Linked DNA regions of Homo sapiens: all the other regions are linked to region 1. The links come from fine-mapping of genetic effects on gene expression. A gene starts in region 1. Each other region holds a variant in brackets. All regions are shown on one strand. Distances are from middle to middle. Region 1 holds the start of DTNBP1 (dystrobrevin binding protein 1). Region 2 overlaps DTNBP1 (dystrobrevin binding protein 1). Region 3 holds the start of LOC105374947 (a long non-coding RNA gene).

What was found.
Region 2: its variant is fine-mapped to the expression of DTNBP1 in whole blood (TOPMed, PIP above 0.99).
Region 3: its variant is fine-mapped to the expression of DTNBP1 in caudate (GTEx, PIP above 0.99). The same link has a PIP of 0.9 or more in anterior cingulate cortex, cerebellar hemisphere, cerebral cortex, hypothalamus, nucleus accumbens and prefrontal cortex.

Annotation. Positions count from the first base shown.
Region 1 is chr6:15,658,376-15,669,548 of GRCh38, forward strand. It overlaps DTNBP1 (dystrobrevin binding protein 1), which reads right to left and starts at 4,653. Exons shown (of 10, transcript NM_032122.5): 1 at 4,439-4,653. The coding sequence starts at 4,494. RefSeq lists an enhancer at 3,860-3,909 and a silencer at 4,140-4,649.
Region 2 is chr6:15,577,695-15,585,694 of GRCh38, forward strand. The region is part of intron 7 of DTNBP1 (dystrobrevin binding protein 1); the gene reads right to left. Among named protein-coding and RNA genes, the nearest start is that of DTNBP1-AS1, 36 kb to the left of the region's middle. RefSeq lists a silencer at 5,590-5,790. The variant G/C (reference allele first, on the strand shown) is at 4,607.
Region 3 is chr6:15,517,758-15,526,354 of GRCh38, forward strand. It overlaps JARID2 (jumonji and AT-rich interaction domain containing 2), which reads left to right. Exons shown (of 18, transcript NM_004973.4): 18 at 2,312-4,285. The coding sequence ends at 2,494. It overlaps DTNBP1 (dystrobrevin binding protein 1), which reads right to left. Exons shown (of 10, transcript NM_032122.5): 9 at 6,769-6,912; 10 at 5,050-5,462. The coding sequence ends at 5,218. LOC105374947 (a long non-coding RNA gene) reads left to right here and starts at 8,577. Exons shown (of 4, transcript XR_007059475.1): 1 at 8,577-8,597. RefSeq lists an enhancer at 1-70 and a silencer at 5,277-5,463. The variant T/C (reference allele first, on the strand shown) is at 5,113.

The DNA.
Region 1 (11,173 bases):
ACTGGCTCCAACCCCCTTTGTGTAGGTTTTGGTAGATACTACAAGGACGGAAGAAGACAGAATGAGGACACTGGGCAGGGGTGCAGGTGGGCGGCAGGGGCAGTGAGGGCTTTGAGGGGGAAACACCCTCTAGCTGCAACAATAGCAGGTTTTTTTATCCCCAACCACAGGAACCCAGTGCATCACAAATAGGAAACACCAGCCTGTGACAGGCAGCTGTAAACCCGTCAGTAAATCTGATTTTCAGTTCCCTGAAGGGTTTGCATGCCTAAATACCTCAATCCTGAGGCCTTTGGTCGTAACAGCTCAAAAGGTAAAAGTCAAAGACCAGAGTGGCTTCGAAGTATGTACTTTGGTATGTCCAAAAGTCTTCCCCAGAGCTCAAGCCAATCTCTGTAAAAATGGATATTTTATGTGAACTCTCCAAAAGGCTCCAAGAATTCTGACTCAGTTAAATCAAATTACAACTCACTTTAGGTGAGGGGAAAAGATCTTTGAGTGAAGCTCAGAACCAATCCTCTTCAGTCTGTGGCCTAAGGCTGGCCCACCACCCAATTAAGGCAGGAAGAATGTGATGTAATCACTAGTTTTTCTCAAGGTTGACATAATTGTTACTACGCATAAAAATTTACAAAAAAGGCCATAAGTCCATGGACAACCTAGAGCTCCCCCCAAACCACCAGTAATCTCTACACTGCCCTTAAAGAACAATGGTCTTAAGCTGCACTTTTTCAAAGTTTGAATGGAATGTAGAAATTTATTCTTATTGGACATGGTTTCATCACCAAAGTGACATTCTGAGACTGATAAGGAATCGTTCTATTTTACTAAAAATGAAAAAAAGTAAATTTATCTAGAGTTAGGGCCTTCATATGAGTTTTCAGAAAGTGAAAATGATCACAGAAGCTCCGAAGAGAGGATGCTGCTCTGGGCGACAGCGGGAGCTGCACTGGCTGCACTGAAGGAGCCCAGAAATGCCTGAGGCCTTCCATTCCATCCCTGGGGCAGCCTGCACACCCGGTGTTTCCAATTATTTTAGAAGGCAGCTGCTCTGGCTTCCACACAATTGCTCTGCCACCAAGTGTTCTACAGAAACGCCAGGTCCAATGTGATAGCTCTGGGTGGCCAGGGCCATGTTTTTTCATTTTTTCTTTCTTTTTTAAGAGATGGGGTTTCTTTCTTTTTTTTTTTTTTTGAGACGGAGTCTCCCTCTGTCACCCAGTCTGGAGTGCAGTGGTGTGATCTCGGCTCACTGCAACCTCCACCTCCTGGATTCAAGAGATTCTTCTGCCTCAGCCTTCCAAGTAGCTGGAATTACAGACGCACGCCACCATGGCCAGCTAATTTTTGTATTTTTTAGTGGAGACGGGGTTTCACCACGTTGGCCAAGCTGGTCTTGAACTCCTGACCTCATGATCCGCCTGCTTCGGGCTCCCAAAGTGCTGGGATTACAGGTGTGAGCCACCGCACCCAGCCAAAAGATGGGGTTTCTTTGTGTTGCCCAGTCTTGAACTCCTGGGCTCAAGGGATCCTCCTGCCTCAGCCTCCCAAGTAGCTGGGACAACAAAATTGTTGGAAGATTCCATAAAGCTTCCCCATGTGGCCCTTTAACAGTCGTCTGTTTTAAAAATTGGTTTTTAAACAGATTTAATGTGTGAAACTTATCTGATCTGGATTTGAACAAACCAACTGTAAAAAGTCATTTCTAAGCACAAAACAAATCTGATTATGGACTGCATAATTGATAATATCAAAAAATTAGTGTTAATTTTATTATCTATGATATCAGCATTGCATTTATGTAATATGTTTCTTTTTTAGTGATGCAGCTCACGTCTCTTTCATCTTTGAATTCCACATTACCAACATATAATAAACACATGTGTGCTGTGTTTAGCGTCATCTTTTCTCCTCAAGGCAAAAATAATCAGTTATGTAAAGGAGGTTGATCTCAAGCTGAATATGGAAAAGTTTAACCGAACAGCTTAAATGTAGGAAATTGAGGACCTGAAGAAAGTGAACATCAGGCACTAGAGGTCCGGGTCTACTGGGAGACTGACATCACTTGGAGATGAGTTGTTTCTCCACCAGGTGACAGGCTAATGGCACACACTGACAGTCCAGTGGTTTGTCAGCTGAAAGTGACCTGTACAGGAGAAAGCCAACAAAAGACCTAATGAAGCCCTCTCAGGATGTCTAGCTCCAAAATGGCCCCAGACTACGGCATCTTTAAGAAGTCAAGTCAGTTTCCAAGGGGTTCTAACTAGATCCCTTTGGCATGTCTCTCCTTAACTAACTCTAAACGTTTAGGGTTACCCTGATCTCCCAGGATGGTTTGTGCCCCAGCAGTCCAGAGCCCACTCCAGAATCTACATTCCGGGGTAAAATGCCTTCTTACAAAGGTCAGGAGCATGAATGCTTCTGAGGCAACCATGTGACCTAGAGTTATAGTAACTACAAGATGGGCTCTTGTGCCATCAAGGAATTCCATGAAGTACTAACAGGAGAATAATGGCCACTCTCATGCTACAAATGGGCCATTTCAGCATCACACCAAAAAGTTTTCAATACAATAATTTACGCTCTGAAAAGAAGGTACTTTTACTAAATAGGGAGAACAAAATGCAAGCACGCAAGCACACCCATCAGTGAATGACTCCGAGCGTCCATAACTTTCTAAACACCAAACTAACAAAAATGATTGACGCATGGTAAGTGCTCAAGCGTTTGACAGTTTGTTATTCAACGCCCAATGTGCAAATAGTATTAACATTTTTGTCCATTAAGATAAAATTTTGGCTAACATCTTTCTCATTAGAAATTTAAAACGAGGCTGGGCGCAGTGACTAATACCCATAATCCCACCACTTCAGGAAGCCTAGGAGGGAGGATCTCTTGTACCCAGGAGTTGGAGGCTGCAGCGAGCTATAATAGCGCCACTGCGCTCCAGCCTGGGCAACAGAGCGAGAACTTGTCACTTTAAAAAAAAGGGGGGGAGGGTGGGCCGGGAACGGTGGCACACGCCTGTAATCCCAGCACTTTGGGAGGCCAAGGCGGGAGGATCACAAGGTCAGGAGTTCGAGACCAGCCTGGCCAATATGGTGAAACCCGTCTCTACTAAAAAATACAAAAATAAGCCGGGCGCCTCTAGTCCCAGCTACTCAGGAGGTGGAGCCAGGAGAATCGCTTGAATCCGGGAGGCGGCGGTTGCAGTGAGCCGAGATCACGCCACTGCACTCCAGTCTGGGTGACAGAGCAAGACTCCATCTCAAAAAAAAGGGGGGTGGGGGGGAGAAATTTAAAACAGTATGAGTGGAAATGTTCTCACATTCAGTGCATCCTCCAACAGGATTTGTAAGCTAAAGTTGAAAGATCCTTTTCAAAGACAGATCTTTTTCACTTTAAAGGAATGAAAAAATTAAAATTAAGCACTAAGTAACAATACTGACATGATGCTTGCTTCGTGTTTTACACATTAATTCATTAATCCTTGTAATAACCTTTTAAGTACCATCATTATCCCCATTTTACGGTAGCGGAAACAGTACATTGAGGCAAGGCAGCTGAGTAACTACGTTTGATTTAGTGGTCGAGCCAGGATGCCTAGGCAATCTGGCGCCAGAGTCTCGGCCTGTGGTTCCCAGGCGTTGGTGCCCACTGGAATCCCCTGGGGATCTTTAAAACGCCGTCTCCAGGCACTCTGGTCAACAGGTAGGGGGTGAGACCTGGGCATCAGAACTCTGAAAGGTTCCCAGGTGATTCTAAGCAAAGTTTGGGAACCGCTGGGTATTAAAAGCATTCCTAAAGTTCTGTCGCTTCTCCTGCTTAGGAGTTCCTTCGCCGAGGCGCTGAGCTCACGGCAAAGGTAGAGAAAGGACGCAACGGGGAGGGGCGGCCAGCCTTGCCAAGGGTTAGGCCGGCGAGCCGGGCGTGAAAGCCGAGACGCGGCGCGGAAGGCTGTGGCCGGAGGGTGCAGGCTGCTGCGCGGTGCGATCCGACTCGGGGAGGGTGGCTGGCCCAGCTCCAGGTGCGCACGAGCAGGTGTCTGCTGGGCCGAGGGGCGCAGGCCACTGTGCCGCGGGGGCGGAAGCGGTGAGGCGCGCTGGCTTCTCACATGACTTCCCTCCAGGGCCCAGCTGATGCTGCCGGGAAAGGACCGCAGGGTCCCACACCCCCCCCGGGCGCTCCGCTGCGCCGCCGAGCGCCTCCCGGTCCTGGGGGGTGCGCGTCACAGGCGGCCCGCAGGGACCTAAGTTACTTTGCGCCGCCCGACGCGAGGACGCCGGGAAGTTCGTTACTTTCCTCGGCGGGGCGGGGCGGGGAGGTGCGGGACAGGACGGACCCTGGACCGTGGCGCGGGGAAGGGAGCGAGGCAGGGGCATCCCAGGCGGCGGCCCGGCCCCCTCAGGTCCCTTTTCGTCGCCCACCGTATACCCACCCGGAGGTGAAATCCTGCTGCACGCTCAGCAGCCGCTCGCGAAGGGTCTCCAGCATTGCCGCCGCCGCCGGTCTCCTCTCCTCAGGCCTCGGGCTGCTGCTGCCTCTGTCGCCCCCTGGGTCCCACGCCGCCAACCCCGCGCTGTCACCGCGCGCCCCGCACTCCCACTACCGGCCCCGCCCCCGGTCTGGTCCTCGCCGCCGCGCCGCAACCCCAGCCCCTTCCGCGTTCCCGCCCCGCGCGCGCCAGGCTCGCGCAGCCGCAGTGGACTGCGCCGGGCTCGGGCTGCGGAAAAGGGGCGGGTCTTCCCCCGACCGAGAGGGCCAGTAGCTCCTCGGCTCATTCCTATCCCGCACCAGGCCTTCTCGTTTTTTTTTTTTTTTCTTTAAAATGGAAGCGGCATCGTGAAAGGATGATTTAACTCGAAGCCTCCTTTGAGGGAAGTGTTGGCTTTTACGTTTTGGAAGAGAATTGGATCTCTCTCTTCAATAGGCGATGTGCACAAATCATTGCATGGATTCTAGGTCCAGGATCTGACCCCACTGGCTTTCACCTTGAATGAGACAGTCAAATATTGAGCCTCGGTTTCTTCATTCATAAAATGGCAATAATAGTCGACTGTCTCGACATTCTTACTTTCCACTCTCTCTTTACCCCCCCAGGCTTTTGTGCCCTACACACCAAAGGTGATCGCCTTTCGCGAGTCACCAGTGACTTCCATGTTGCTGATGCCTTTTATTACTTCTCTGCCCTGATTTTTTCTCCACCTCTCAGTGGCTTTCAATGCAGTTTATCATCCCCATCCTTAAAACACTTTCTTCTCTTGCTAAGCACTCCATAGTTCCTCTCTCCCTTCCGCTCCACCCCTTCTCCTATTTTAATAGCCACTCCCAAGGCTACAGTCCAGCCTCCCCAGCTCTTCTCTCTTCTCCAGATGTGTTGTTCCATAGATGGATAGCATAGAGTCTATCCATTACCACGCTGTAAATTCTGTCAAGGAACCGATGACTCCCACAGCTCTATCTTCTGCCCTGTCCTTCCTCCCTCTCCGTCAATTCATACCAGTTGCTTACTCATGTAAGCATGTATACAACATGTATCCAAAAGGCATCTCAGACCAACATACACAAAATTGAAAATTTCATTCATTGCATGTTCACCTTTAATCTGCTCATCCTGTATTTTCCGTTTCAGTAAATGACACCACCATCCACCAATTTGCTCAAGGTAAGACACTTGAAATCACCTCTGGTTCCCCTCTTTTCCTCATTCCCCATATTAACCCATCAAATCCAATCAACTCTACTCCTGAAGTATTTCTGGAACCTCCTTCTCTTTCTATATCTTCACTATATTTATCCTGGTCGAAGGCACCATCCTCTTTCAATGGGAACACAGACAGTTCTTCCAGATTCTACTCTTTTGCCATACACACCCCTATAATCCATCCTTGACACAGCAGCCAGAAAGAGTTATTTAAAAGATCAATCGGATCACGTTGCTCCCCTGCTTAAAATCTTCCAATTGCCTCCTGGGCACTTGGAATAAAATTCAAACTACTTACCCCCTTAAAAAGCCCTAAAATTTGAATGTTTTCTAGCACTGTATCCAAATTGATTACTAGTCACCTATCATGTCCTTGACAATTAAGACATAATAGCCTTTTTTTTTTTTTTTTTTTTGGTGTGTTCTTAGAAAATTCCAGGTTTATTTCCACCTGTGGTGTTTTCACAAACTTTTCTCCAAACTGTCCCTTGTCTGGCTCCTTATAACATAAGGGTCACATCCTAAATAGCATCACATTAGATAGGTTTTACTTACCATTCAAGTTACACACCCAATCACTTCCTATCACGTAGCCTGTTTCTCAACTTAGTACACATTAGAAAATTTATTCAATAATTATTTGCTATTTATTAATTTAGTTGTTTACAAACATATTTTAAAACCACGACAAATAAGGCATTCACCTCAGGTACAAAATTTACGGGAGCCAAAAAGCTCAGTAATCAAGATAAGTAATATTTTAATACAATATTTAAAAAATTCAAAATTAATGAAAAAAAATCTGTGATGAACAAAATATCAAAATTTTAAATACACAGGATCTGTTAGGGCTGGGATTGGATGAGGCCAGTGAGGTAAGTAGCACAAGTACAGGCCCAGATGTAAACTGCTCTGTCTTATTAAGCTTTGCATCCCCAGCAATGAAAACAGTGAATGGCACATAACAGACACCCAGTAAATGTCTTGTTGCAGGAGTTAAATAAGATAAAGGACTTAGCTTGTAGCTGGGGGACCACCTCTTCCCCACTCTTGATGTTTTCTTCCATGGGAAGGGAGCTCTTCTGCTAACATAAAGAAGTACCCAGCCTCTCCTGGTGGGGAAGAGGTGACTACGATGATTAGTGAGCTAGAAGTAAGGAGCTTGGTCTCATCTTCTTTTCTTTTTGTTGAGTGAACACTTCCAACAAAGAGCATTCATTCTGCTGCCTAAAGACAGGCTTGAAGGGCAACCCAGTGCTTTTTGTGACTGGGTACTAGAAGTTCTGCTTGCCCATGAATATAAGCCATGTGTTCCATCAGTCTTCCTAGATATAAAAGTGATATTTTGGCCTCTTTATGCTGACACTATTGTTTTATTTCTCAGTTTGCTCAGACAAGTAAGAAAGAGGAGTGCTGTTTATTGAGCCTTCTTCTACCTCTCAGAAACAGTGCCTGGAACAAAGCAAGTGATCAAATGATCAAATCTACAGACAGGTCCCTTAGTATCTAGTAGATTTGAAAACCACAAGTACTGGGAAATATTAAATTTTTTTCTTTTATTCAATTAAACTCTACACATAAGCTTTCAATTTACTAAGTTTCATACATTCCAACAAAGCACCAAATCCACTCAAAAAAGACTCTTGCCTGTCACTAAAAAATAGCTTTACTGGTTGTGCCTGATCATTTCTGTCTTGACCAATGCACTGTTTATTAGTCTATGGCATGTTTGTATTTGAGGTGCTTTCTGAACATTCTTAATTCCATCATATCTATTAAATTAAAAAACAGTGAAAGTTTTAAAAGTGCTAATAAAAAGATAATTTATGATTTAAAGAAGTAAATATTAAAAAAATTAGAAAATAACTACTGTTGTACATGAGTTGCTCAGGAGGAATGATTAAGGACCAAGAGTTGAAGCATGTGACATGTCGTGTTTACATAAGTAACAGTAATCAGCCAGAAACTAGGAAGATGGATTGGCAAAATGAAAAAAAAAACAAAGCTTTTAAGTACAGTTTGAGAACCAACATCAGTATGGAAGCTATTGACCTAATCTTAATTCAGGAATTGGTTGAGAGTTGATTGTTGTTTGTTTGGGGTTTTTTTGTTTGTTTTGTTTTAAGACGGAGTCTCCCTCTGTCACCTAGGCTGGAGTGCAGTGGTGCAATCTTGGCTCACTGTAGCCTCCACCTCCTGGGTTCAAGTGATTCTCCTGCCTCAGCCTCCTGGGTAGCTGGGATTACAGGCTTCCGCCACCACGCCCAGCTAATTTTTGTATTTTTAGTAGAGACAAGGTTTCACTATGTTGGACAGGCTGGTCTCAAACTCCTGACCTCAAGTGATCCGCCTGCCTTGGCCTCCCAAAATGCTGGGATTACAGGCATGAGCCACCGCGCCCAGCAGAGAGTTGATTTTTTGAGAGCATATTAGTTGCGCCCAGGAAAAGCTTTGGTGATACAACGTTTGGGGTGAGCACCAAAGCTGCTAAGAAGTTTCCTGAAATAGTGCTTCCCTGACCAGCAGCAGCCGCATCATCTGGGAGCTTCCTGCAAAGGTAGAATCGTAGGCCCCAGCCAGCCCTACTGAATCAGAATCTGAGTTTTATTAAGACCCCCCGGGTGATTTTTATTCATGTTAACATTTGAGAAGCCCTACTCGTTGATGAAAGGGGGTTTCCTGTCTCAGCAGATTCTTATTGGAGACAAAGTGATAAATGAGGATTTGGCGGAGTTAGAACCAAAGAGAAAGATGCTATTAAAGAAGGGGTGGTACGAAAGAAACCACCATCAGAGCGAACAGGCAACCTACAGAATGGGAGAAAATTTTTGCAATCTACTCATCGGACAAAGGGCTAATATCCAGAATCTACAATGAACTCAAACAAATTTACAAGAAAAAAACAACCCCATCAACAAGTGGGCAAAGGATGTGAACAGACACTTCTCAAAAGAAGACATTTATGCAGCCAAAAGACACATGAAAAAATGCTCATCATCGCTGACCATCAGAGAAATGCAAATCAAAACCACAATGAGATACCATCTCACACCAGTTAGAATGGCGATCACTAAAAAGTCAGGAAACAACAGGTGCTGGAGAGAATGTGGAGAAATAGGAACACTTTTACACTGTTGGTGGGACTGTAAACTAGTTCAACCATTGTGGAAGTCAGTGTGGCGATTCCTCAGGGATCTAGAACTAGAAATACCATTTGACCCAGCCATCCCATTACTGGGTATATACCCAAAGGACTGTAAATCATGCTGCTATAAAGACACATGAACACATATGTTTATTGTGGCACTATTCGCAATAGCAAAGACTTGGAACCAACCCAAATGTCCAACAATGATAGACTGGATTAAGAAAACGTGGCACATATACACCATGGAATACTATGCAGTGAAAAAAATGATGAGTTCATGTCCTTTGTAGGGACATGGATGAAGCTGGAAACCATTATTCTCGGCAAACTATCGCAAGGACAAAAAACCAAACACCGCATGTTCTCACTCATTGGTGGGAATTGAACAGTGAGAACACATGGACACAGGAAGGGGAACATCATACACTGGGGCCTGTTGTGGGGTGGAGGGAGGCGGGAGGGATAGCATTAGGAGATATACCTAATGTTAAATGACGAGTTAATGGGTGCAGCACACCAACTTGGCACATGTACCCTAAAACTTAAAGTATAATAATAATAAAAAAAAAGCAGGAAAAAAAAGAAGGGGCTGTAGAACCCAGAAAAGTTCATACCATTTCATTGGCAGAGCTCTTTTAGAGTAATTGGAAAGGGACTATGGTTAATTGCTTTGCAGGAACCTGACTTAGATTTGTAAAGATATTTACAGTGTGTTGTTATTATTTGTGATGTTTTTAAAAAGCCAACATGTAAATATTTTTGATATCTTTAATTTTTAAGAGTTTAATGGTTACAGAAGAATCCATGTAAAAGCTGTAAATGTTTCTCGTGAAGCAATGAGTATTTTTAAGAATGAGGTAAGCTAGATAAAGCTGGAAAGGTGATATCAGCACAGCATTTTGAAAAGAAAAGCAGAGACAGAAATCAGGGAGGTGAAGGAGGAGAGTTCCAACCTCAGAGAGTAAAGATTAGAACGCAGCTGAAGAACAGGAGAGAAGGGGGTAGTTAGAGAATATCAAGGTCGGAAGACAGAAGCTATAATAATAGATCTAGACGGCAAGCACTGTCGGGAGTGACAGCAAGGTTGGAAATGAGTATTTTACCTGAGCTGAACGGAAAGAACAGTAAAAGGATCTCAGCTGCATCTATTTGTGTTCCAAAATTGTATCCCACTGTCATAAAATGACTGGGCACCTAACCTTATCTTTTTGCTCAGATGAAAAAAGAAGGCACTACACTGTTGCATTAAAGGAGGAAAACGTTTATTTTTTGTTAATATGTGTTTAGATCTATATAATCTATAAAGATACATTACAGGAGGAAAACTTTTATTTTTTGTTATTCTATGGTTGGATCTATATGGTCTATAAGATATCCATAAACGACCAAGTGACTCCATTCATCAAAGCGTAGGGACTCTACATGAGTAAAGGAAACCACGTCCTGTACTCTTACAAATAGATGGTTCCCCCAGAGAGAATACATCTCAGAAATCACATCTTCTGAACTACTGTGCCATAGAAATATATTTGTGTGGGAAAACTTAATAACAAACTGAAACTCTTTAATAAGAATTAGTGGCCAAAAAAAAAAAGTTTGAGACAATGATTACTTAGAGCTAACTATCAGGTCAATACATGCTGGTGGGGGAGCCGTAATAATTGATCATTAGTAGTTAAAATAATTGATGATTATAATTGCAGTTAAGTAATAGTTTTCAAGCCTGGCTGCACCTTCAAATCACATGGGGAGCATTTTAGAAATACCAGTGCCTGACCTCAGCACCCCCAGAGCACCTGGTTTAACTGGTCTAAGGTGATGTCTCCTCCTTCATGCGGTTTAAAAGCTTCCCTGGTGATTCTAACATGCAGGCAGGGCTGGGAACCACTGAGCTAAGCAGAGAGACTTAAGCTGCCCTGCAGGGGAAGGCAACGATGACTTCAGAATCCATGAACTTCAGGAGTCAAGGCTGCAGTTTGTCCTCACCTTTCCCAGCTCATTCAAACAGGCACTAGCCCCATCACTTTATTGTACCCAAACCCCTGTAGCCTCCATCTCTGCTGGCTGGTTCTGAAGGCAACAGTGTGAGGCAGGGGCAGAGGAGAAAGCTAAACCAGGCCTGGATAAGTGAGGCAGCAGCTGAGATGTGCTCGGGCTTCCCCAGGGGTTGTGTTTTGTTGTTGTTGTTTTGTTTGTTTTGTTTTGTTTTTTCAAAAATACCTACTCAGCAAAGAGAGGAAATCCAAGAACCAACTGTGCCTGGAGACTTAGCCAGGCCTTCTGGAACTGGAAGACTCTTGTTGCCAGTGATGGGGTTCAGA
Region 2 (8,000 bases), 82 kb before region 1:
CGGAGAGCTGGATAAACCAGTCTAGAATTTAGGGGTGAGGCCAGGATTGGAGCCAATAGCATTGGGTGGTATTTAAAGCCTTGGGACTGAATAAGAATGCAGGAGAGAAAAGGCCCAAGGATTAACCCCAGAGGCACTTCAACATCTCCGGTGGGAAGGTAAAGAGCTTGGACTGAATCCTGAAGTGTAGTTCTCCAAGTGTAGTTTTCCAAGATATTGTAGCCAACATAATTTGGGTGGTAATGTCAGTTTTATTAGTCATGTGTTTACTTTTACAGGCAAAAGGGATTAAGGAAAAGAATAGTGAAGTATGTGGACAGTACGAACAACTGCCAGACGATTCTGCAGAGAGGTGAGCACTGATGGTGCAGAAGAGAGAGGACAACGCTGCCAGAGCAAAGCCCTTAGGCAGGAGAGAAGGAAGGAGTCCAGCGCCTACACTGAGGGGCTTGCTGTGGAAGCAGGGACAGTCCCCACGGTGCCAGCGAGGAAGCCAGAGTAAGCCGACGCTGGGAGGAGGGGGTGTTAGTGCAGGGAGCACAGAGCCCTTCTCTTCTGACTGCTTCCAGTTCCTCAGTGAAATCAGAGGAAAGCAATGAGGAATGGGATCAGGGAGGGGATGTCCCAGTTTGAGAAAAGAGCATTCTCCTAGTGCGCAGAGGGGAATGTACTAGGATTGCCAGCCTGGATGAAGGCTTTCTAGTGAATTGTGGACAACATCTGAAGTGAGAACTCAGGAAAGGATGTTATGTTTTCTTCTAGCTACATTCAGCTGCTCGGGGGCATACACCATGCAGGCAGGATGGAATTTAACCAATTACATTTTTTCCAGCAACAGAGGGAGAGAAAAGTAAGGAATTATTGCATAGTACTAAAAAAATTAATGACTTATATGGCAAAATATTGAGTGGTCATTTCATGCTGTAAATCAAAATAAGTTCTAGATTAAGTAGAGTTAAAGTAATAAGTAAACTATAATAAAAACTGGAAGAAATAACAAGCTAATATTTATTTCTTAGGATTGGGAGAGAATCTTCCATGCAGAAAAGCAATGGAAGGTATCATTAAAAATATTCATTTGATGCCCAAAAGGTATGTGAAAAAAATGCTCAACATCACTAACCATCAGGGAAATGCAAATCAAAACCACAGTGAGGTATCATCTCCTACAGTCAGAATGGCCATTATCAAAAAGACAAAGGGTAAGTGTTGGTGAGGATGTGGAGAAAGGGAAACTCTTAGACACTGTTGGTCAGACTGTAAATTATCTCAGTTGTTATGGAAAACAGTATGGAGGTGCCCCCAAAAAACTAAAAATAGAATTACCACGATTCAGCAATCCCACTACTGGATATTTACCAAAGAAAAGAAAATCAGTATTTTGATTAGATAGCTGCACTCTCATGTTTCTTGCAGCACTATTTACAAAAGCCAAGATATGGAATCAACTAAATGTCTATCGACAGATGAATGGATAAAGAAAATGTGGTATGTATACACAATGGAGTATTATTCAGCCATAAAAAAGAACAAAATCCTATCATTTTCAGCAACATGGATGAGCCTGTAAAACATTAAGTGAAACAAGCCAGGCATAGAAAGACAAGTATTGCATATTCTCACTCATATATGGAAGCTAAAAAACTTGACTGCATAGAAGTAGAGACTAGAATAGTGGTTACTAGAGGCTGGGAACGGAGAGTTAACCAGATGTTGGTTAACAAATACAAAATTACAGAGAGGAGGAACAAGTTCCTGTGTTCTATAGCACTGTAGGGTGACTATAACAATTTATTGTATATTTTCAAATAGCTATAAAAGTGGATTTTGGCCAGGTACGGTGGCTGACGCCTGTAATTCCAGCACTTTGAAGGCCAAGGCGGGCAGATCATCTGAGGTTAGGAGTTTGAGACCAGCCTGGCCAACATGGTGAAACCCTGTCTCTACTAAAAATACAAAAATTAGCTGGGCATGGTGGCAGGCGCCTGTAATCCCAGCTATTTGGGAGGCTAAGGCAGGAGAATCACTTGAACCTGGGAGGCGGAGGTTGTGGTGAGCTGAGATCGTGCCACTGCACTACTCCAGCCTGGCCGACAGAGTGAGACTCCCTCTCAAAAAAAGAAAAAAAGAAAAGAGTGAATTTTGAATGTTCTCAATGCAAAGAAATGTTTGAGGTGATAGATATGCTAATTATCCTGATTTACTCATTACACATTACATATATGTATCAAAACTTTACAGTGTACCACACAAATATGTACAATTATGTGTCCATTTAAAATAATAAAAGCAAAACAATTCATTTGAATAAAAAATATTACACTTCTGTGTGTAATAACCACGCAAAATTAAAAGGCAAATAATTAGTTGAAGATAAATATCTGCAATAAATATGACAATTTGAAACCCTTAATATGTAACCCCTTCATTCAAATCTACAAGTACACTAAAACTGCAACTGAAAGCAGCCAGAAGCAAAAACAGTTCATAACAACAATAAAAAGCCGATAAATCACATTTTACCTCCCGTCACACCTCAAACAATAATCAAATTTTATTTTTGCTTTCATATTAGTAAAGACAAGAAAAAAATACTCAGGTGAGGGTCTATGAAATAGATAAAGTCACAGACATTGCTAATGAAAGTATAAACTGGAACAACCCTTCTAAAAAGCTAACGATGAATACACACCAAGAGCCTTAAAAAATGTAATACACTTAGGCTGTAAAAAATTGTGGCCCTATCTATGTACGTATAGAGATGCTTATTACAGCACAAGTTATGCTTAGCATAAAACTGGCAACTACCTAAATTTCCAACAATAGGAAAACAGTATGTTAATGACATGAGGCAATGCTCATTTCATAAGGGGAAAAAACAGGAAACAAAATTGTTTGTATGCTATTCCAATTTTGGATGATATGTCTATATATGTGTGTGTGTATATAAACCTCAAAAATGTTTGAGGCTATTGCAGACTAGTGATTCAATTTTTTTCCCAGAAGCTTTTTAAATTTTCCTGTCTTCAATGGGGATGCATTGCTTTTACAGTTATTTTAAAAATAAAGACTAGGGGCACTTTCATGTTAAAAAGATCTGGGCATTGTAGTTAAACATGAGCTGACTGGCAGAAAAGGTGACTAAAAAGCTATAGTCACAGTCACCGTTTCTAGAAGACTGTGCAGGTACAAACACCATTTTTATATGGGGTATTGGAAAACTAGCATGGGTCTAGACAAGAATGACCAGGAGAATAAAGCATCTACAATCAGCTACCACGAAAAGAAAAGGTCAAGGAACTACAACTCTGAAGCCTTAGAAGGTTGGTAGAGAGTGTGAACTGTCAACACACCACGTAAACACCTTCAGGACTGCTCATAAACGGACTCTACATGGGACGAGGTGTTGGATGACAGGACTTCAAAGTTTTTCTAAGATACAATGGCTAGAAAGAAGTAGAAAAGGGGAGACTGCCAGAAATTCTTTTTCTGTTTTCTTTTTTTAGACGGAGTCTCACTCTGTGGCCTAGGCTGGAGGGCAGTGGCTCCATCTCGGCTCTCTGCAACCTCTGCCACCCAGGTTCAAGCAATTCTCCTGCCTCAGCCTTCCGAGTAGCTGGGATTACAGGCACCTGCCACCACGCCTGGCTAATTTCTGTATTTTTAGTAGAGACAGGGTTTCACCATCTTGGTCAGGCTGGTCTTGAACTCCTGACCTCGTGATCCACCCGCCTGGGCCTCTCAAAGCGCTGGGATTACAGGCATGAGCCACCGCGCCCGACTGTTTTTTTTTTTTTTTTTTTTGAGATGGAGTCTCGCTCTGTCACCCAGGCTGGAGTGCAGTGGTGAGATCTTGGCTCACTGCAACCTCTGCCTCCCAGGTTCAAGCACTTCTCCTGTCTCAGCCTCCAGAGTAGCTAAGACTACAGGAGCATAACACGCCTAGCTAATTTTTGTATTTTTAGTAGATACAGGGTTTCACCATGTTGGCCAGGCTGTTCTTGAACTCCTGACCTCAGGTGATCCACCTGCCTTGGCCCCCCAAAAGTGTTGGGATTACAGGCATGAGCCATCGCGCCCAGGCAGAAATTCTTTTAAAACTGTTACGCAGAAATCAGCATCTGCAATAGAGAAGATTTGACTTTAAGAATGGTCAAATATTTCCTGTCCAAGGGGGACACAGTGTGCAGAGGGGAGCTAGAGGCCTTACTAGTCTTTCTTCTAATCCTGCCCTGAGCTTCAACCCACATCTCAAATTCAGAGGAATCTTTCCAGGGTTCTGCAGCATAAATCAGCATCTTTTTTTTTTAAACACTGGGTTTTATTCTTAGAATAGCCCTGTATTAAAGGAGCATTACACAGCAAGACCAGGAAGCAGTTCAAATACAGTTAAAGATGAAATCTCAATATGCTACTTAGCTATTCAAAGTTTGCGGTATAGAAAGAGAATGGGGGAAAGGGACTGGATATAAATGCAATACCTAAAGAACACTGAACACTATGGAAACTCAAAACTTGTCTAAATTCTATTGTTTACATTTTAGCACGTCCCAGGAATGACTGTGGTGAAGTGAGAAAAACACAGGTTTTGAGGGCAGACGTTCCT[G/C]GGTTTAAATCCCTGCTGAAATGCTTACTAGCTGGGTGACTTGTTTAACTCTCTAAGTCTCAATTTTCTCATCTCACAGGGTTGTTTTGATACTACTTGAGATACTGTGGTACTAACTATGAAATGCAAAGTACAGAGCTAACACATGTACATGCCTAATAAGTAGTTTCTTTTCACTAATTTATTAGAGTTTTAATAGAAATAAACAGAATTATACTTATATACCTATAATGGTATGACTGATATTCTGTGCCACATTAATTTTACTAAATGAAAGAAAAAAATCCTGGTGGTTATTTATTTTTTGATCACATCATTGCAATTACTACGATAATTCTTATTACATATACTTTTATTTTCAGTTAAAAATAAACATAATTAGAACTGATGAGTCATCTTCATGTAGTAAGTTTCTGACTGTTCAATTCCATTTTATCTACCATAGTATTTATTTCATAGGTTTTCAAAACTGGAATTAGAGACTTGAAAGTGAATAGCATATTATTAAGTATCCTATGCTACTCTTTTATACAACACTTTAAATGATTCTTAAGAATACAAAGGGATATTAAATAGTTCAATATTATTCCAATGCTTCTTTAGTTATTTCCCCTATCTTAGGGTAAACACCATTTTCCTTCTCAAATAAAAACAAATTAGCCAAATTTCAAATGCTGATTCATTTTATTTTATTTTAGAGACAGGGTCTTGCTCTGTTGCCCAGGCTGGAATGCAGTGGTGCCATCATAGCTCACTGCAGCCTCAAACTCCTGAGCCTCAAGTGATCCTTCCACCTCAGCCTCTCAAGTAGGTAGGGTTACAGGTGCATGCCACCATGCCCGGCTAATTTTTAAATTTTTTTGTAGAGCGGGGGTCTCATTATGTTACCCTGGGCTGGTGTCAAACTCCTGGTCTCAAGCGATCCTCCTGCCTCGGCCTTCCAAAGTGCTGGGATTACAGGTGTGAGCCACTGCTCCCACCCATATACTTATATTTATGCTATAGGCATACCTTTACAGGGAAAGCCAGATGAATATTTAAGTAGGAGTGAGAGTTTCTCAGCTCAGTTGGCCACTTGACTTCTCCCCTACTCTAGAAGTTTATAAAAACCATTAGGCAACTACCAATCTTCTGAGAAAAGTACAAACTCCATCCCAGTTGCCTTCAACAGTTTAATCAGCAGAGCTACAAGATCCCACAGGTTATTTTCCAGCACACACCTCTAAAAAGCTAAGACAAAATCATGAAGCTCCATATGAATTCAACAGACAAAGTCTCTTGTTAAGGCTGACAGCTAAAATTTTCAAAGATTTCTTTTTGTGGTTTTAAAATTTAGTTTTCTGAAAGGTATAATTTTTGCTGTCAAGTTATACCATGTTCCAGCAAAAAGGTAATGAAACAGAATAGCTGTATTTATTCATGATACCAAACATTTATGATAGACAACAAAACGTTGTCCTGATTCACTTCTAAAATACTCTATTGCTATAATTATTGATCATACAATGGTGGTATATGATCATTACAAGAAATCCCAGAAAAGTAACATTTAAGCATCACAACCCTAATCTTGATGCTCTATTTTTATGTAGTTTAATACCTAAACAAGCTGTTAAAGTGCCAATTCCCCTTCAATATAGAACATCGTCTTAGAGAATTTCAGGTCATGCCCAGTATGACAACTTAAGACATGGTATTAGAATAAACAATCAACTCCGTCTTAGAAATAAACTGTCTTAGAGCCAAAATTAACAAACAGGATATAAATATTTTGGTATTACAGGATATAGATACTAACTTTATTTAAACACTGTTACATAAATATAAGCCAGCTTTTAAAAAAACGAATATACACTTAACATATATTGACATATGAGAAAAAGATGAGCAGACACCTCAAAAATCTTGCCAGTATTTACCAACAAATCATGATTTTCAAGGAGCAATTTCTTAGATGAATGATCTAAAATATTAAAATTGAATATCAGATTATACCTATATGCAGATCTTTACTCTTAGAACCATTATTTAAGATAATGACTGAGAGAAGAGAAAATATGTCATTTATCATACATTCCCTATAAGTAAATACTTTAAAAATAAATGCCAAAGTTCTCACTGATAAGTTTTTTCCTGAACACTTAATAATGAATAAGAATGTGGTAAAACCTCTAGTTAGAATTTGATTCCATTAATGCTCCAATTTTATAATGAATTCCTGAGCTATCATTTTACTTCTGTTAATATGTCTATCTAAGCTTGAAAGGTTTTGCTATGTTATACATACACAGGCGTGAGAGAGGGACACAAAGAAGGAACTTTTCTCTTAAGTTTGATATACCTTATTCAAATTTGTAATATTAAAAAGAGAATAACCTTGATAGATGAGAGACAACATGTATTTCTTTTTTTTTTTTTTTTTTTTTTTCATTTACAGAGAAGTGGCTTCTACCTGACAAGGCATGATGTATATAACATGCCATAACGTATGCCAACTAAAAGAAATAACAGGGAGTTTTAAAAAATGCAATCACTATTAAAAATTATTCCTCAGTTACCACCCCCATGGATAGTACAATAAATTACTCAACAAAAAATGCACAGTTAATTTTTCAGGTATTTTTTGCAGTAAGTTCCACAACTTCAATATCCTTATATATGTATTTATATATATATATAAATACCACACAGAGATGTCATTAAAACCACAGCCTCTGGCTAACAGATAAGGAATACACTGAAGTTATATGAAATTATGAAAAGAATATATATATATATATATATATATATATATATATATATATATATATATTCAACCTGTATGAAGCATTATGACATTTTTCAAAATCCATATTGAAAATCAGCCATTTTAGATAAATCCATATAGTACCATAGAATGAATTTTAACTTTATACTATCTTTGGATATGGCTCACATATTTAACTCTATTAACTGCCTCTTGGAAAATGAACATACTAGCAGCAAGGGATGCCGAATTAGTTTTATGGAGCTGTACCAGCCTCATTATTCAAATAGCTAGTATTATTTTCCTGGTATTTTATATTTATCTTTTAATACAAATATTGCTTCATAAAAAATGTCAGTTTGATTAATTTCACCTGATGCATGAAAAGACACATATTGTAAAAAAAAAAAAAAGTCCTACATTTCCATGCAACATTTTAAACTTATTTTAGGTATTAATTTAGTAATTATTACTTGTTGGTAATAGAAAGAACTAATAATGCTCTCATAAAAATGTACTACTTGTAGGTTCAAGTCAAGTTGAAATTTAATTTCTGCTTTTTAATAATATATCATCTGCATACCATGCAAATACAGCAATGTATCCAGGCATGGAAATAAACATTTCAAAGGAAAGCAGCAAAGGAAA
Region 3 (8,597 bases), 140 kb before region 1:
GGGTCATAACAACACACAGCCTGTGCAGCTGGGGGCCGCTCTGAGTGGCGGAACTCCTGGCAGCAGTGCCTCTCCCCTGCTCTGCCCGCCTTCCCCACGTGTGCTTCCCACAGACTCTGATGAGGCTGGTTACGAGGAAGGTCGCCACATTGTGGTCATTGCACATTTGAGGCCACTGAGTGGGGTGGGTGCTGCGGGTATGACTGTGAGGGGCCTGGTGTGTCTGGGGGCCCAGGCAGTGGGGCCAAGTGGTGGGTCTCACTGGATAAGCCTTGAGCTAAATGATCGGAGAGCTGGAAGAAGAACTCTTTGCATCTGTTTTGTTTCAAAGAGCATGCTGGGTGAAGGCAGTAAGCACCTGCTGTGTCCCTCCTTCACCTTAGCAGCAAATGTCCAGGCACAGTTGCAAATAACGAAGCCTTTGCGGCTGAGCACGAGCATGGCTCTGGCACCTTGTGGGGGTGCAGGCGGCGGCACGGGGAGGCTTCCTCTGGCTGCCTGGAAAGCGCTCTGTGAATCATGGGTTGTACCTCTCACCAGCAGCCTGTTTCTGTAGTCGGATGTGTGACGTGACCAGATCCTGGGAAAAGAATGGCATTCAGGGGCTGTCTGAGACCTAATGGTTGGTTTTGATGAATTAGGAGCAAAGGTATTTGGAAACTGCATACTCTGTAGTGGCTGAGTAGTTCAGTAAGCATGTCTGTGCCTCTGTCCCCTGTTGAGCTGTGCATTTTTTTGTTTTTAAGACGGAGTCTCGCTCTGTCGCCAGGCTGGAGTGCAGTGGCGTGATCTCGGCCCACTGCAAGCTCCGCCTCCCAGGTTCACGCCATTCTCCTGCTTCAGTTTCTGGAGTAGCTGGGATTACAGGTGCCCGCCACTACGCACCCGGCTAATTTTTCTTTTTAGTAGAGACAGGGTTTTACCATGTTGGTCAGGCTGGTCTCAAACTCCTGACCTCAGGTGATCAGCTTGCTTCAGCCTCCCAAAGTGCTGGGATTACAGGCGTGAGCCACCACACCTGGCCCATTCTTTTAAATAGGAAATTTCTACCTTGTAAACAGAGACCATTGCAAAATCTTCTCAACCTCCCAGTGTGCCCAGTACACAAATCACCCATGTCTGGGCCTGCTGACCCGGGACAGTCTGCTTTAAACACCCACCCTTGCTGGGGTGGGGGGTGCACCTAGATTGCAAATCCCTGAATTCATGGCTTGGGTTCTCATGGATGGTGAAGCTCTCTGGGGAGTTTGGAGCCATTTGTGTCTCTGGCCCTTGCAGGCTGGCTGAGCAGGGTGTTGGGCCGCCTGCCGCCGAGCCTAGTGTGAGAGCACTGGTCTGGGGCAGGTGCTGCCCACCTGTCGAGCTGCACGCAGGGGAGGGAACGGTGTCCTCCTGTAACCGCACACTGCCGCTCCTCCTCACTTGTCCTTATGGTAAGGTAGCAGTAGCCGCCTAAATGGGTTTTATGGCAGCTCATCCACTTATCCTTTATCAGTGTTTATCATCAGTACCTCAAGCAGCCATGACTATGGTGTTATTACAGATACGTGTGGACCGCCCCGCCTTCCGAAGGCACCTTTAACTTGTGATGGGAGCCAGCTGTCACTTTCTCACCCTCATCTTGAGGGCTTTTCAGAGGACTAGAGATCAGGCCCTCAGATGTTTCATTCCATGGCTGGCTTCCTCTCCTGCCAGGGTCAGCATGGTTCCCAGCCACCCGTGGCCCAGAGAGATGCTCATAAGATGCACGTTTGCTACTCCTCCCCATGTTGTTTTTAAAAATGATATGATTATAGGATGTACTGTGTGAAAGTTACAAACACAGTTTTTGGTGCCGACAGATAAATGATTCTCTTGAGTGAATTACAAGGATATGTATAGGTTGAGAAGTGTTTGCATTTACTTGCATGGCCAGGTTCAGTGGCCGGTAGCTAAAGTGAGTCAAGTAGCTTGGGTATTTGTGTCACCATCCAGGATGTAACAAAGCCCCTGGGTCTCTTTGCTGAGTGCTCCGTGGTAGAGGCAGTGCTCTGGGCTCCCCTGCCAGCCCTGCCCTTATGAGCAGGCAAAGCATGGTGGACCAGGGTGTTGATGAGGATGAAACGGCCATGCCTGCTATGTGGCATCAGGAGGAGCTGGGAAAGGGAGACTCACTGCATCTGAGCCTCTCGGGGTTATTTTAAAACCTGTTGGTTGGTGTGGTGAAGGGGACCGCTGCCCTCTGCCCTAAACTTGCCCCTGCATGGCTCTCAGGGACAGAGCTCTTGTTAATACGGTATGTTAACTGTGTCTTCCTTTCACCCCCAAACAGGAACAGATTATCAGTCTGGTCAATCAGATCTGCGGCAAAGTGTCTGGTAAAAACGGCAGCATTGAGAACTGTCTCAGTAAACCCACACCAAAAAGAGGTCCCCGCAAGAGAGCGACAGTGGACGTGCCCCCCTCCCGTCTGTCAGCCTCCAGTTCATCCAAAAGTGCTTCGAGCTCATCATGAAGATGCCAACGCCCGTGGTCGATTTATATATATTTTTTTGTAATTATTATATTCTAGTTTGGAGTACTTGCTGTAGGATTCAAGCTGTCTTTGCACTAGCTCTAAAGAAGATTTTCTTCTGGTTTTAGAGAACTAATTTTGTTTTAGCATTAAACTGTTGAACTTTTTTTTGTACTTAGAAAACCTAGATACTGCAGTCAGATTTTGGAAACTGCCGTATAGTCACTGTTTTAAAAACCCCGGAGGGGCTGTATTAATTTGTATTGCCCCATGGCTGACAAAAGCCTTTTTTTTTGGTTTTGATTTTTTTTTTTTTGTAACTGTTGGGGGGAAAAAGGCTTTTTAACCCATTTTTGAAGAGGGTGAAGTTTGGAGAACAAATTTAAAAACCATCAGTCATGTGAGCAGATTTTTTAGAAGGGATAGGAGACACACGCGCACACACACACACACACGAAACTTGAAATGGCTTTGCTTTGGCTGTCGTCTTCTGCCGTGTGCCAGATGAGCTTGTGATCTGGGAAGCCGGGGCACCCCCGTTTTGTTTCTCTGGGCGGTTGTGGCAGCTGAAGGCGGACGTTGTTTCCTAACCATAGGTGGAACGAGGAGACGGGAGCGAGTGGGCTCTCCACCAGCACATCACTATGCATCTGTTCCAGGAAAGAAGAAAAGCGAGCGAGGAAGACGGAAAAGACTGCCTGCCTTGGAGGGGTCACATGAGGGAGACCTGTGCCTGATTTCATTAGGAAATCCATTCTGTTATTTTTTGGTGCTGTTGGCTACTTTATCAAAAAACCCTTCAATAGCATCCTTAAGATTTAAAAAAAAAAAAAAAAAAAAGGAAAAAAAAGTGATGGAAGCCGTAAGTGCTTCTTTGTCATCGACGTGCAATCTTTCTAACATTCCATCTCCATCTCACCGCTTCTTGTTTGACACCTTCACAAGTCAGCATTAATCTTTCTTTTAAAACTTGTTTCATTTATGATCATGTAGAGAGCCACTAGGAGGCCTGCAGTTATTTTTGAATGTGAAAATGCATTTGCGTTCATCTTGTCTATTTTTTCTCTTCATGTTGTAACAAAAAGGAAAAAAGAAAAAAAAATCCCATCCCTTTTGTACATATGCCTGTAAATTGTTTTAAATACTTGAGCCTTTTTCTCGGTGGGGGGTGGGGAGGGGGGTGAGAAGACAAGATGAAGAAAAGCCTTACATTTCAGTTTCTTCATCGGTTGGATTGGATGCTTACAGGGTTTTTCTTGTAACATTTATAAGTGCTGCTTACATCACTGAACAACAACAAAAAAATAATAATGGAGTAGCTGTTGCCCTTCTCCGGTTGTGTGTACAGTATGTGTGGAATAAAAAAGGGAAACTGTTTTCACAAGCTGTTCTTTGTTTCATAATTGGATTCATCAATCCCGTAGCTACCCATATTGCACTGAGCTTGCCAGTGGTGACTGCCAGGAACGTCCTATGATCCACTTTGTTGGTTGTTGTTGCAGAAGACTGAACTGTTTTGGAATATTTAACAATTACAGAAACAGTCAAGTGTTTTCCAATGTGGTTGTCCGGTTTCTATGGCCTTGCTGTGTACTTTCCCTCTTTTTGACAGTAAACTTCTGCCTATGGCTTACAGTTTGACATTTAATTTATTAGCGCTGCTCTGCACCCCTCCCTTGGGAGGGAGACTTCATGTGGTTTATTGCGAGTTTTTTGTTTACTTTTCAGGTTTGTACTACAAGGTTTAATAATAAAAACAAAGTTTTTTGGACATTTGTCTGTCTTGTGGAAGATGACTGAATGGAATGAGCTCTTTCTTTTCTCGTCCACGGGCAGGGGGCAGAGGATTCCCCCCAGCCAGGGAGCAGAGCCACCCCCCACACTGCAGTCCTGCTCCCACCTGCCACTGGGTCCCCTTCAGCCTAACCTAATGGTTTCCATGTGGCCTGCGGCCGTCCCCCTCATTTCCCATCGAGCTGCGCCCCCCTGCTGAGCTTGCTTTCATGATGAGACGACACTGGGTGCATTCAGGGTGGTATGGCTGCAGACAGACAGACCCCCTCATCCCGGCGGGGAGTCTGTCCCCTCTCTCTCATTGGGCTGGAGGAGTGATGGCAGGAACACATCTCCAGGGGACCAGTTTCTTTTCATAAAGAATGGAGGATTGCTTTGGGCTTGTTTCTGTTCTTTTGGGCCCAGGAGTGTGAAAAAGTAGGGGTTGGACTGGCTGGCTACTGGACTAATGATACTTACTTACTTCTGTAATGATCAACGGAAAACCCCAAGCTTTGCCAGAGTGGTTTGGCTACAGTCAGCTCTTCTACAGGAAGTGGCATTTTCCACTTGTGAAACGGTAGGTCATTCCCTGCCTCATGCAGAACTCAGCCCTGTGGAGCCTCCACCACCTGGCCCAGGCCCTGCCCACATGCAACCTCCCGGGGTGGCCCTCAATGACCTGCACGTCCCTTCACTCTAAGGAACCCTGAGTTACAGTGGCCTTAAGGACATGTGTATTTAGAAGCCTTTGTGTACAAACTAGCTCTGTGCGCTCTCAGTTTACCGTCCTCACACTTTATTGTTAGCTGTTCTTTAAGTTTCTCACACATTATTGGCAATTA[T/C]GTAAAAATCAAGAACCTCTATAAAACAACCTGGCTTTCCAGGTGGAATTCCGCATACAGCCAAAACTGGATTCCAGTGTGGCCAGACAACGCCCATGTCCCAATTTAAGAGTCGCTGTCCTCACCACCATCCGGAGTGGCCTCTCTGTCAGTGTGTGATGTGGCCAGGGCAGTGTCCACCTGAACTTCCTCCTCATCGGACTGAACAACGGGGGACTCCCCACCCTCACTGATGTCCCGGGTGGCCGAGTCGGTGCAGGTGGAGGAAGAAGAAGGTGGCTTGGCTCTTAATTCTGAGGGATTTGGAACCTGGAGGGTAATCTCATTCTGACAGGTACTGGATTCAGGCCCTGCAAAATAACGTAGGGAAGAAAAAGCCCTGTCATAAAAATATTGTGAATCAGAATTGCCGCCAACAGCTGTGGAATGTGCCCGTCATGAAAGGGGGGTGTGGTTTTTGTTCCAGGCACCTGGGGCCTGCAGAACTTGGGAACTGCCCTGGAAGACACTGAGCTGAGCGATGCCAGAGGCAGCCTCAGGCCCTGCGGTGACCCTTCTGTCCCCTAAGGAGTCAGCCACATGTGACACAGATCAAGTGCTCCTAAGGCTGTAATACGCGTGTAATAGAGGCCCAAAGGCAAGTGCTGCCTATCTTTGAGGAGCAGTCCTTGTAACCTTGATAATCTAGATTTCTTTTTTTTTTTTTTACCCTTTGCAGTAATTCAGAGACACCACTGCTGAGAAAGTCGGAATTACTGACCTTCAGCAGTTCTCCAATTTTATGGAACTAAATAGGCTCTTCAAGGAATCAAAATTCTATATGCAGGTGTCACTGTTTCTAAATCTTCCCCTGACTCTGGGTGAGGGTTCACGCTGGTCTCCAGTATTCTGGCCTTCTCAGGATGAGGGCAAATGCACCCAAGCTCCTTCTCTTCCCCAGGATGACACCGTTCTGACAGATTGCCAGGAGAAGCGGGTGAGAAGTTTAGAGGAAGCTGAAACCGTGGTAATGGTAGAACCTTCTACAGATGGCTGAGGTGCTGCTGGGACGACTGAGCTTTGCCTTGACCCAGCCCAAAGAACTGGTCTGAAATTTGAAACGCACCAAGCCCAGGTACAGGTCTGGCACCTCAGCCCATATTTGCTGCATGAATGTGAAACAAAATTTTGTGAAGGGATGAAAGGAACTGAAGTGCAACTAAGTTTACAACACAGGCCAAGAGCTGAACACACACCATGGCTTTGCCCATGGCAGGCACGCCCCTAAATGCCTGTCGCACGAAGAGGGAAGAGTTTCCCGTGAGCCCCGCAGGAGAGTCCGCACCTCCCTGCAAACGCCAGTCCTTAACCACAAGGAGCAGACTCAAATGGATTTCTGGGTGGTAAAGGAGGGAAAACAAACAAGAAAGCTCTCAACTCACCAAAGTTACCGGAGTGGAGCATGTCAAATCTTTGAGAAGAATTCATGACGGAACCACACCACTGTTGCAGCTGCCACACAGCCGTGTGGAACCGTGGGGTTAGGGAGCCAGGAGCTGGCTGTGAGCTTGGGGGTTTATGCGTAAGTGACTGGCAGATGGTTCTCACGTCTCACCTTTGGAGGGGAGTGGCATCGATACTGCCCTGGTTCAGCTAATGCAAGTTTGTCAACCCTACCTAAGGCGGGGGACAGCACAGTGTTCTCTTCTCCTCCAGAGTTCAGGAAGACGTCCAGGGCCTCCTGGTCCGATATGTCCATCAGGTCCATCTGCTCCAGCATGTCCACGTTCACTTCCATGGATGACATGCTGCCTATGGGCTCTGCGGATAGATCAACACGAGAAAGGACACGCTGTCTTTAATATTACTTTAAAAGGTGAACTTCCATTGGCATTAGGCTAACTACATTGCATTTCCTAAGCTTCCTTCAAAATGGAATTTGAAGCAACGTATTAGTAGATGACATATGCCAGTCTGGCACTTTAAATGCATCCTAAATCACCCTTGGCAACTATTATTACCTTTTACACTTCCTTAATCTGTTCATCCCCAGCCCTTTGGGACGCTGAAGACTAATCTCTGCATTAAGTGAGTCCCGGCTGTTTTGAGTAGGACGCTCAGCCTGTCTCAAAGAGGCCAACATTCCTGCAGCAACAGTTAGCGACCTTCCTCCCTGCCAGCCACAGCTCTGCTTCCTGCCTACAGGTGCCCTGAACCTTCCCGGCAGGCGCACTCCTCTAATTGCAAGTGGAGTTTCCACTGGCCTTGGAACATTTCTCGGGCCTAACGGCAGAAGGGGTTTGACCTACATCTGTAAGCTGTAAGAGCTCCCTGCAGTGGAAGCACAGACTAGGAGAAAACAAAACCCAGCCCACCAGCAGACGGCGACCCCATGAAACAGCACATGCCTAGTTGGCCTCTGCCCGGGCACTGAGCACGGGATGCCCCACAGGTCTTTACTCATAGGCAAACGACCTCTATGGTCCAGAAAACCACAAGCCACGTAAGTTATCCTAGCCATGGGGAATGCCTGGCAGAAGCAAATGCAAATTATTTCTGGAAGGACTCTCCCTTAACCTTGGTTTAAACAAAGTCAATCCCAACCCAATCTGGCATTTGTAACACACATGAAATGAGCCACTCCGAGTGAAGGGCAGCAGAAACAAACATCATCCTCGCTGAAGAATATGAGATGGCTGTTCATACACCACAGTCACAGGAAAGGTGAAGTCAAAAACAAGGTGTCAAAAATAAGGACAGACATTTGAAAGCCAAATAATGACTAGGTAGAAGAGACTGAAATCTCAAACTCGGGGCACAGTCACAGCCCAATAGAAAATTAATAAACTAGAAGGCAGGATGAGTAAATCTGCCATAATGCAGCATAGAAGAACAAAGAAAGGAAATACAAGAGAGCATAAAAGGTACGAAAGATGCAGAAGCGTAGCATCTGGTCACATTTCCCCGAAGCCAAGAAGGGGAGATAACTCTATTCAAAGAAGCTGATGAGTTTCCCAAATCGATGAAAGACCTCAGGACCCAGATTTAAAAAGCAAAACATTCCAAGCAAGATCAAAGCAATCTTCACCTACACCAATTGCTTTGAAGTTGAAGAACATCAAAAGACAAAGGCTCTCTAAAAGGCAGCCAGAGAGAGAGGGCAGGCTAAGAAAGAGAAGGAAATAATTAGGATGACAGGCAACTCATGAACAACAATAATAAAAGCCAGAAGACTGCGGAGTAAGTTCAAAGAGGAGAGAGAAATGTCATCTCTAAAATGGTGTAACATTAGGTATCGTTTAAGATCCAGGAGAAAAGCAGAGACCAAGAAGAAACACGTCATTATGAGCCTGCTCTCGCTAGAGGCATAGTGAAGGAAGGGCTGAGTGCAAGAAAGCATGTTAAGCAAAGAGACGTGTGAGTGTGTGAGTTAATGTAAAACCTGGAATGGAACAGTCATAACGAGGAGTCACCAAGGCCAAATTACCCTCCTGAACAAAGACACG